Regions from separate parts of the Homo sapiens genome. Here region 1 is linked to region 2. The links come from fine-mapping of genetic effects on gene expression. A gene starts in region 2. The other region holds a variant in brackets. All regions are shown on one strand. Distances are between the middles of the regions.

What was found. PIP is the estimated chance that this variant, and not a neighbour inherited with it, causes the effect. A credible set is the group of variants that fine-mapping cannot tell apart.
Region 1: its variant is the best candidate, but not a certain one, in a credible set for the expression of EPHA5 in sigmoid colon (GTEx, PIP 0.71).

Annotation. Positions count from the first base shown.
Region 1 is chr4:65,560,410-65,564,409 of GRCh38, forward strand. All of the region lies in intron 3 of EPHA5 (EPH receptor A5), which reads right to left. Among named protein-coding and RNA genes, the nearest start is that of EPHA5-AS1, 110 kb to the right of the region's middle. The variant C/T (reference allele first, on the strand shown) is at 2,467.
Region 2 is chr4:65,668,277-65,672,276 of GRCh38, forward strand. It overlaps EPHA5 (EPH receptor A5), which reads right to left and starts at 2,213. Exons shown (of 17, transcript NM_001281766.3): 1 at 1,286-2,213. The coding sequence starts at 1,466. EPHA5-AS1 (EPHA5 antisense RNA 1) reads left to right here and starts at 1,685. Exons shown (of 4, transcript NR_034138.1): 1 at 1,685-2,397; 2 at 3,500-3,605. RefSeq lists an enhancer at 1-362.

The DNA.
Region 1 (4,000 bases), 110 kb before region 2:
AAACGGATATTTTTTCCTTCTCTGTATTGTTCTGAAGATCTTTTCAAATAATTTTATTCTGAGAAATATGACATCTTCTCCTGATGACATGAATAATGAATACATTACATGGAAATGTTTATCATTGTTAGGATAAACACGCTTATCCTTATATTTCATTTGCCCATCCCACTCTAGGAGAGATAGGGGAAGCCAATGCCATTTCTTTTTATTTCTACTCACTGTCAGTTTTCTTTGTCCATCTCTAAGTTGAAAGTTGCATTTTAAGTCACTGGAGTTGAGAAATGACAAAGGTAATACAAAAGTCCCTAGCTTAACCCTGAATGTTTATGTTCACATAAGTATTCTAGACATAATTCCTGCCTGTTAAATGACTCAAATAATATTCTGAGGATAAACAAAATAATATAGAATATAGATTTTATGCTTTCAGTCCTTTGAAAAATTATTTCTAAGTAAAATGCAGTGATTTTGTTTTTGTTAAATGACTCCATGTTACTTGAATGCTCAAGTAACTTTTTGAGGATCCTCTGTCCATCCATGTTGAGTCTTTAAATCACTAATTCATAAACTCTTGTCTAGAATAAAAATCTCATATTGAGTAAAACATAACTTTAAATCACTTCCATTAGTAAGTACAAGGCATTTATCGGTACCAATTAAGTATAGGAATTCATACTTTTTCTATCCCCGATAGGCTAGAAAGGTTTGACATGATGGAAAAAAAATTTCCTCCGTACCAACTGTAACATTTTTAAGGGACAAAAAACACAAACATTAAAAAAAAAACTATTCAGTCCCCTTGTTCTTAAAAATAAATGAGCTTTGTAAGATATTATTTATCTAAGAATGGGAAGACCTATCAAATGTCTATACTCATGACAGCAGCATCACTAGAATGCCAATCACTTTATTACGCAATCTGCCAGAAGCAAGTACAAAATACTGATGTTATTCACAGTCATAGGCATATAGGGTATCCAGGGTAGTCTCTCATTGTCCCTCTGTTCAGATCCATCATTCATAAGCACGGGCATCATTCATAGGCAGGGAGTAGACTGAGTGCAATGTGCTGAGGCATAACAGCTTAGCTGGCAGCTGTGTTTCTAGATTTAGGCTGTTCACAGTGGTCCATTGATCACATGTTCACTTCCTAATTTCTTGCAAGTACATAAATGCAGGATTGAGTAAAAGCAGAAAGTGAGAGTAACAGGAACATTAAGCCCCAGAAATTAAGACACATTGTATTGATTTAAATCTTTCAATGCCTGGACTCATCACCAAGTCCATGCACCTCCATTATACTAAAAGCCAAATACATATATTGATCTGTGGTATATTTCTTGGAAACCATAGGGTGGAATGAACCACAAGAGGTTGCAGAAGGGGAAACCATTCTAGGAAATAATTTTTAAGTAAGATTGATATACCAGAAAATTGAATATAAACATAAGTGCCTATAAAAATTTCTTTGCAGCTCTCAATACAGAAGAATTTGTCTAGACTCGCATTGAGGTCTAATATTATACACTGAGACATTTCTAGTGATCATCCAAATCTGAAAATATTTGGAACTAACCTGATAAATGTCTGCAATCTAGATAACCCTGATTATCAGAAAGTCAGCTACCTTCAACTGAATATCACAGAGCTCTTGATTCTTCTGATTATTTTGGATTTTGAGTCAAGATTGAAGGTCACTGGCCATCATGTTCTGAAAGAATTTGGCTTGCTAGGCATGTTATTTATGCTACAGACACAATCGGGTGGCATTTCTCAACCGCAATCCAAGTAAACTTGAAGATCCATAATTAAATTAATATGAATCAGTTATAAATTTCCCCCACTACTGAGGGATATTTTTGTACAAAATTTTATTGACACTAAGTAACCAAAGTTTAGATTTTTAACTTTTAAGGCCATGCTTCTCAATTGTTTCTTTTGCACATTTTGGAGACGTTTAGGGTTCTCCAAAATGACCATAAATATTTGCAGACCTTTAGGTAAGCTTAAACCCCCTCATGTTTTAGGGGAAAAAAGATGCATTTGGCTCTTCTTGAAACTAAATTTTAAATTGACATAAGAAAAATAAAAATTTTAGATAGTTGAAGTTGTTTTCAGAAGCAGTTCATATAAAAATTCATAAGAGAATGTTTGCAACTGTATATCCATGCATGTGGAAGACATATGGTTCATTATGCAAGGGGGTCACAGAGAAGACGCATACCAAGACATTCTTGACATTCTGAAAGTTAGTGACTTTTTCTATTACGTTACAATTCTCAAAAGGCAAGATTATTGTATAGAGCTTCTTCTCACTTTTTTGAAATATTCTGTTTTTAAGAAAATCTCAAAAGTCTTCAAGACACTGAAGATGCTGATTAATTAAATATAACATTTAAAAAAATTAGCCAGGTGTGGTGGTACATGCCTATAGTTGTAATTGTATACATGGTAATTGGTAAA[C/T]TGAGGCGGGAGGATTGCTAGAAACCAGGAGTTCAAGGCTGCAATGGGCTTTGATTACGCCACTGTACTCCAGACTGGGTGACAGAGCAAGACCCAGTCTCTTAAATAAATAAATAAATAAAATAAGGATAAAATAAATATACTATATGTAAAAGCTTTGCTTTAGTTAAAACCTTGTGATCATGATAAAATATACTTTCAAGTAGATCAAGTAGATATAAATTCTTTTTTTTTCTCACTATTTTCACCCTCCCACTGTTCCTATTGTTTTAGCCATACATAGTTCTGAGGAGCCATTTGGCTGATACTTACTTTAGATCCCCATTTGGCAGACCTGTCCCTTGTTCAAAAGTTGCTGAATTTTATTTCTCAGGTGCTGCTAAGGCGTTGATGGCTGATGAAAACAAAACTGATCACTTATTAGATAATATTTACATTTTAAGAGAAGTCTTCAGTTCCTTCACTCAAAGATTCAAGAAGTAAAGCATTCGAAATTATTTAGAGAAGCAAAAATATTTCAGCATCCTTCAATCACAGCACACAAGTAGCTTCTGATTCTAACATAATTATATGGAGTAGTATAATTATTTGTCTAAAAGAGCAGGTAACAAGAAATTACATAATGGTTAGATTTTAGGAAGTAGAGTGGAGTTAGAACTTTAAAAATTAAATACTTAGTTGGCAGATTTATTGGCAAAATTCTCCAGATATTACTCTAATGGGAAGAGACAGAAGAATCAGCATAAATCATGTGTAGCAGAAAGTACCAAATCCACATATCCTGTTCTAAATCAGTGTGAAAATTAAAAAACTCGAAGCAAGCACTCTTTTGATGAAAATATTTGGAAATTAGCACATGAAAACATTGTTAATTTCTAACTGGAGGAAAATAAAGCTATTTTTCACATTTCTGTCCTATTGAAAAGTCTGATGAGTAATGAAAGAGATTTTTATATGCAAAGTTGTGGGAGCTAAATGACATCAATAGTATGTGTTCAGAAATCTTCCCTCTGTTTAAAAAATATCAAAGGCTAATAAATCAAAACAAGTACTATAACATATTCCACAAATACTAGAAATTTTCCTCTCAAACTATTTTTTGCCAAGTATCCTTTATCAAAGGATTTGGTGCTAAGTGTTGAACAAAATTATCATCTGTTGTTCAGCCAACTTACTCTTTGCTATGCTTCACACAGTTTTAAACAAACAAACAAAAAATGATTTCTTTGAGGCCTGATTTTACTTGTGCATACATATTTCACCCTGTATTTCTGTATCACAAATAACTCAAGATAATCATTTTTCTTGCATATTAATTGAAGGTGCTCCCAGGAATACCACATAGACACCAACATTAGTTTCTAAATCAAAGTACCCATAGGAGTTCTTAACCCAAAAGATGCTTTGACTAAAATACTACAACCATATCAACAAATATTTCTAAATGATAGCTCCTATTAAAGTTTAGGTAATTACTGGGGTCCTAATTGCTAGAAATTTAAATATTACATTAGGAGATTGTCAAAATTACTTA
Region 2 (4,000 bases):
AGTCACGAGGACACACACGACTCCACCACTGCTGCTTCATCTTTCCGGTCTAGTGTCCCGTGCCCAGGAGTGGAAGGAATTTCTGCAAGGTTTTGAGCCTCACGCGTCGCATCCACAGCCCCAAACCGAAACCTCACCATTCTAGCCAAAGTGGGTAGGTTTTTCTATGTTTTCATGGTGGAGCTGACAGATCTGGATCTGAGATACTGTTCCCGCCCCTCCGCGAGTAATGCGCCCTTGGGCTGAGACCCGAGCTCAGTCCGGGTGTGGGAGAGGAGCAAGCGCTGCTGGAGGGGACCCAAAGGCAGAGGTCTCAGGTCCAAGAGGCAGGCGGACAGAGGGGCTGAGCACTGTTCCGGGAGCACGAAGAGCGACACAGGTGTTGCTCCCGCGCCAGCTCTACTCTCCCAGAAAAAGGCAGGGACAGTATTCTGGGTCTGGAGCACAGGATTGGGGGTAGGGAGGGGGACTGGGTACTCCTGGATCAGGTGCTGGCCAGAGCAGGTCTTTTCCGTCTTTAAGACATGCCCAGGTGGGTTTTAGCGGCAACTTCCTAGCAGCGACACTCCCCCTCACCCCTCCTGCCGCGGCATCCCACCTTCTCGCCTTCTTCCACCTTGGCTTGAGTGTGACAATGAACTCCCCCAAGAAGAAGGGCACCCAACTGTGTGGGGCGCCTTCTGTCCTTCGCTATACCCCTCCCACGAGAAATAAAAGCTCCTGCCACCCACCCCAGAATAGCAGCTGGTGATGCCCTAAATAACAGCTCCCAGCAGGCACTTTCCCCAAAAATAAAAGCATCCAGCCACCCCCACAACGTTTCCCATCACTGGCCTCAAATAACGGTTTCTAAAAGCCCCACTGCTCCAGAGATCCTTGTCACTGAGCTTCCAACAGTTCCCACTCCTTCAAGCCCGAAATGTCACTTCCCCACGCGCCTTAAGTGAGGCCCAGCCGCACCCATCCCCCTGGAACGGGCCTCCATTCCCCAAAGGAGGCCTCGACCTCCTTTCCCCCAAGGTTTTCCACCTTCCCAGCCCCCCAACCAGCCTCTGTCCACACGCATGTTCCTTGCCCAGCACTCCGCAGCTAACGTCAAACAATGCAACCAAAAACCGCAGAGGGGAGCGAAAAGGCCAGTGGAAGGGGACGACAAATACCAATTTGAGATGAGACTGCGATTTAGTCTGCAGCAGCAGCGTCCAGCGCGCTGAGACCTGAACTCCCAGGCCCCGCCTAGCCCCTCCGCCCCAGGTCGCCACGGTCCCCACCCCCATCTCCCTACCTTCGTTGCTGGGGCTGGCCAGGAGGGTCCGGAGTGCGGCGCACAGGAGAAGGCACGTCCAGAGGGGAGCCCGTCGAGGTGCAGAGTAGCAGCCGGCCAGGGACGCTGGGGTGATGGGGGTGTCGCCGCCGCCGCTTGGGGGCCGCCGGCGTCCCGCACCCCGGGGCCCCGAGCCCCGCATCTTCTCCGAGCCTCCTCCGGTGCCGCTGTCCCGAGCGGCTCAGTCCACCGCTTCGGCCTCGCAGAGCGGCGAAGGGAGACTCGGGAGTCCTCCTTGTCCCCCCTTGGGGTCCTACGCCTTCTGGCACGCGGCTCCTCCAAATGTAGGAACCACGGATCCGGCTGAGACAGCTGAAGTTTGCTTCTGGCTCCTCTCGCCTCCCCCTTTGGTGGGGTTAAATGAAATATTAGTTCTGGTTGCTAGTGCAGATCTGGACTCGGATCAAGGGTGTCGAGAGGGTCCTGGGTCCTGTTCCTTTGCCTTTCAAAAAGACTTTTTACGGATTGAGAATTTTTAAATACCACTAGGGGAAAGGTGAAGGTTCTTTGCAGCCTTCAGTGTTGAAATGGACGAAGGTAAGGAAGGCAAATCATTTTAAGACGAAATCTCCGATTTTTTAAAAAAGGAGGAAAAAAGCAGGGTGGCTAAGGATAAAGAAAGAGGACTTGAGAAAATGTGGAGAATGAAAAACAGGAGAGCAGCGAGCAAAAGCAAAGATCCAGAGTTCAAAGAGACTGGCAGAAGGAAATAGCTGCGGGCTGAGTGCTGAAGAGGGGAGGGACTGACGGCTGCCGGCCGGTAGGAGCGCGGAGCTGCGCTGCGGCGGCCCAGGAGCTGCTGCGGTTCCCGCTGCTCGGGGAGCAGGCGGTGTGTGCGCGGCTGCGAAGTCGAGGTTGAAACTGCACCGCCAAGGCGCGCTCCTGCTGTGTCTGGAGCTCCGGCGTCTCCTCTGCCTCCCAGCTCAGCGCCTCCCACCCTCCTTCCCTCCTCCTCTTCCCAGCTCCCCCGCCCTCTGCTGCTCGCAGCCTCGCCAGTGAGAATCTACTGTAAGTGTGAGTTGCTTCGACGAAGTCACACACCCACGGAGGGAAGTAATCTGGAGGCTGCCTTGGTGAGTGTTGCCTAGCGGTCTCCGGGAAAGGCGCGTCTTCCTCCCGGGATAATTAGGGCAAGGAATCCTGACGACGCTGGCGAGGACTGGGGTTCCCGGGAGGCGGAAGGGAGATCAGCCCCAGCTCAGCCGGCGGCCCTTAGAGACGCGGGTCCCTCCGTTTGGCATCTTGCCTGCTGTCCCTCACAGGCTGTGGCATCAACAACCTTGTCGTCACATCGCCGCGCATTCGCAGGCTCTGCTGGTCCGTGGCTAGTTTCTTAAACACCCATACCGCTTACCGCTGCTGACTCTTTCTGTTCTTCCCATACTTTGATGGCTGGAATAGGATAATTACTCAATGTTTTCTTCAGAAGTAAATTGTAGAGTAAATAAAGAGGCGGTAGCTCTGTTTGAGATTTCAAGGAGTCAAAGAATTTGACTATTGAGATTTGTAGTGTGCCAGGTACTTTCATAGGTGGCGATTTAATTCATTTATTTCATTGATAAAATGTTTTAGTATTTTAGAAATTGGACGATATGCAGATACACGACATACATTCCAGTGAAATTAGCCTCGGTCAAATAAATTCAGGGTTTTGAAAAATTAATTATTTTAATTGATTGTGCCCTATAGCATTGGGAGATTTACAAACAGTGAAAAAAAAAACAGTTAAAACAATCAACTTTCTATGCTTCACCTCTATTATGTCTTTTCTTGCTTTAGTATATTCCCTCGATTTATTCATTCTTTCAAAGAGATACATTTGAAGGACAATTTTAGTACACAGGCATTTAAAAACAAAAGGCTGCAGAGAAAGCACTTACAGAAAGGTCTGATTATAGAAGAAAGATATCTCATTTAATTTCATGTATAGTAACCACTGTAAAGCTTGGGCTTCCGTTCACACCTAATAAAGGTGAGTCAGCTCACCAGTTTTGACATATCTAGAGCCTTGTTTGTCTCCACAATAAATTCCTCACTATCTTTAGCTGGTGACATTTGTTTTTTGTTTAAATATTTGCAATAAAGATGAAAGAATAAAGCAGCAGTGATGCAATTTTGTAAAGAGGTGAAAGCTCATCTTTGATTTCTTTTTTTCCTGAAATGTTTTGGCACCAGAAGTCTGAAAGCAGGTTCTTTTTATTATAATGTGCTCCGAATGGATGAAGCAAATTTAGAGGAAGAGCAGTGAATCAGTTTCTCAGTTTGGCAAAAAGCCTCACGGGTGAGATGGAAAGTTAAAATTTATGTTTCTATTTGAGGACCATTCAAAATGTAAGCTCCCCTCTCCCCTACAATTATAATTGAGTTACTTAAAAATATTTAAGCAGAATACCAACTACGATATCTAAAGCCCAGAAATATGTAGTAAAACTAATATGAGTTTAATGGGGCTTTGAGCTCGTTCCTTTACTTCTACAGGCTTCAGTATCCTCATCAGTAAAATGAGGAATTTGGAGAAGACAATCTTCAAGCCTTCTTCCCTTCCGTTGGTTGCATGTCTATGTGACTACCCTGTTCATCTATCTCCAATTATTTACTATTGGCCACAAAATAACCAAATTTTTCAGCCTAGAATTTAAAGCCTTCTACTACAAATGGTTTAAATATATTTTTTAT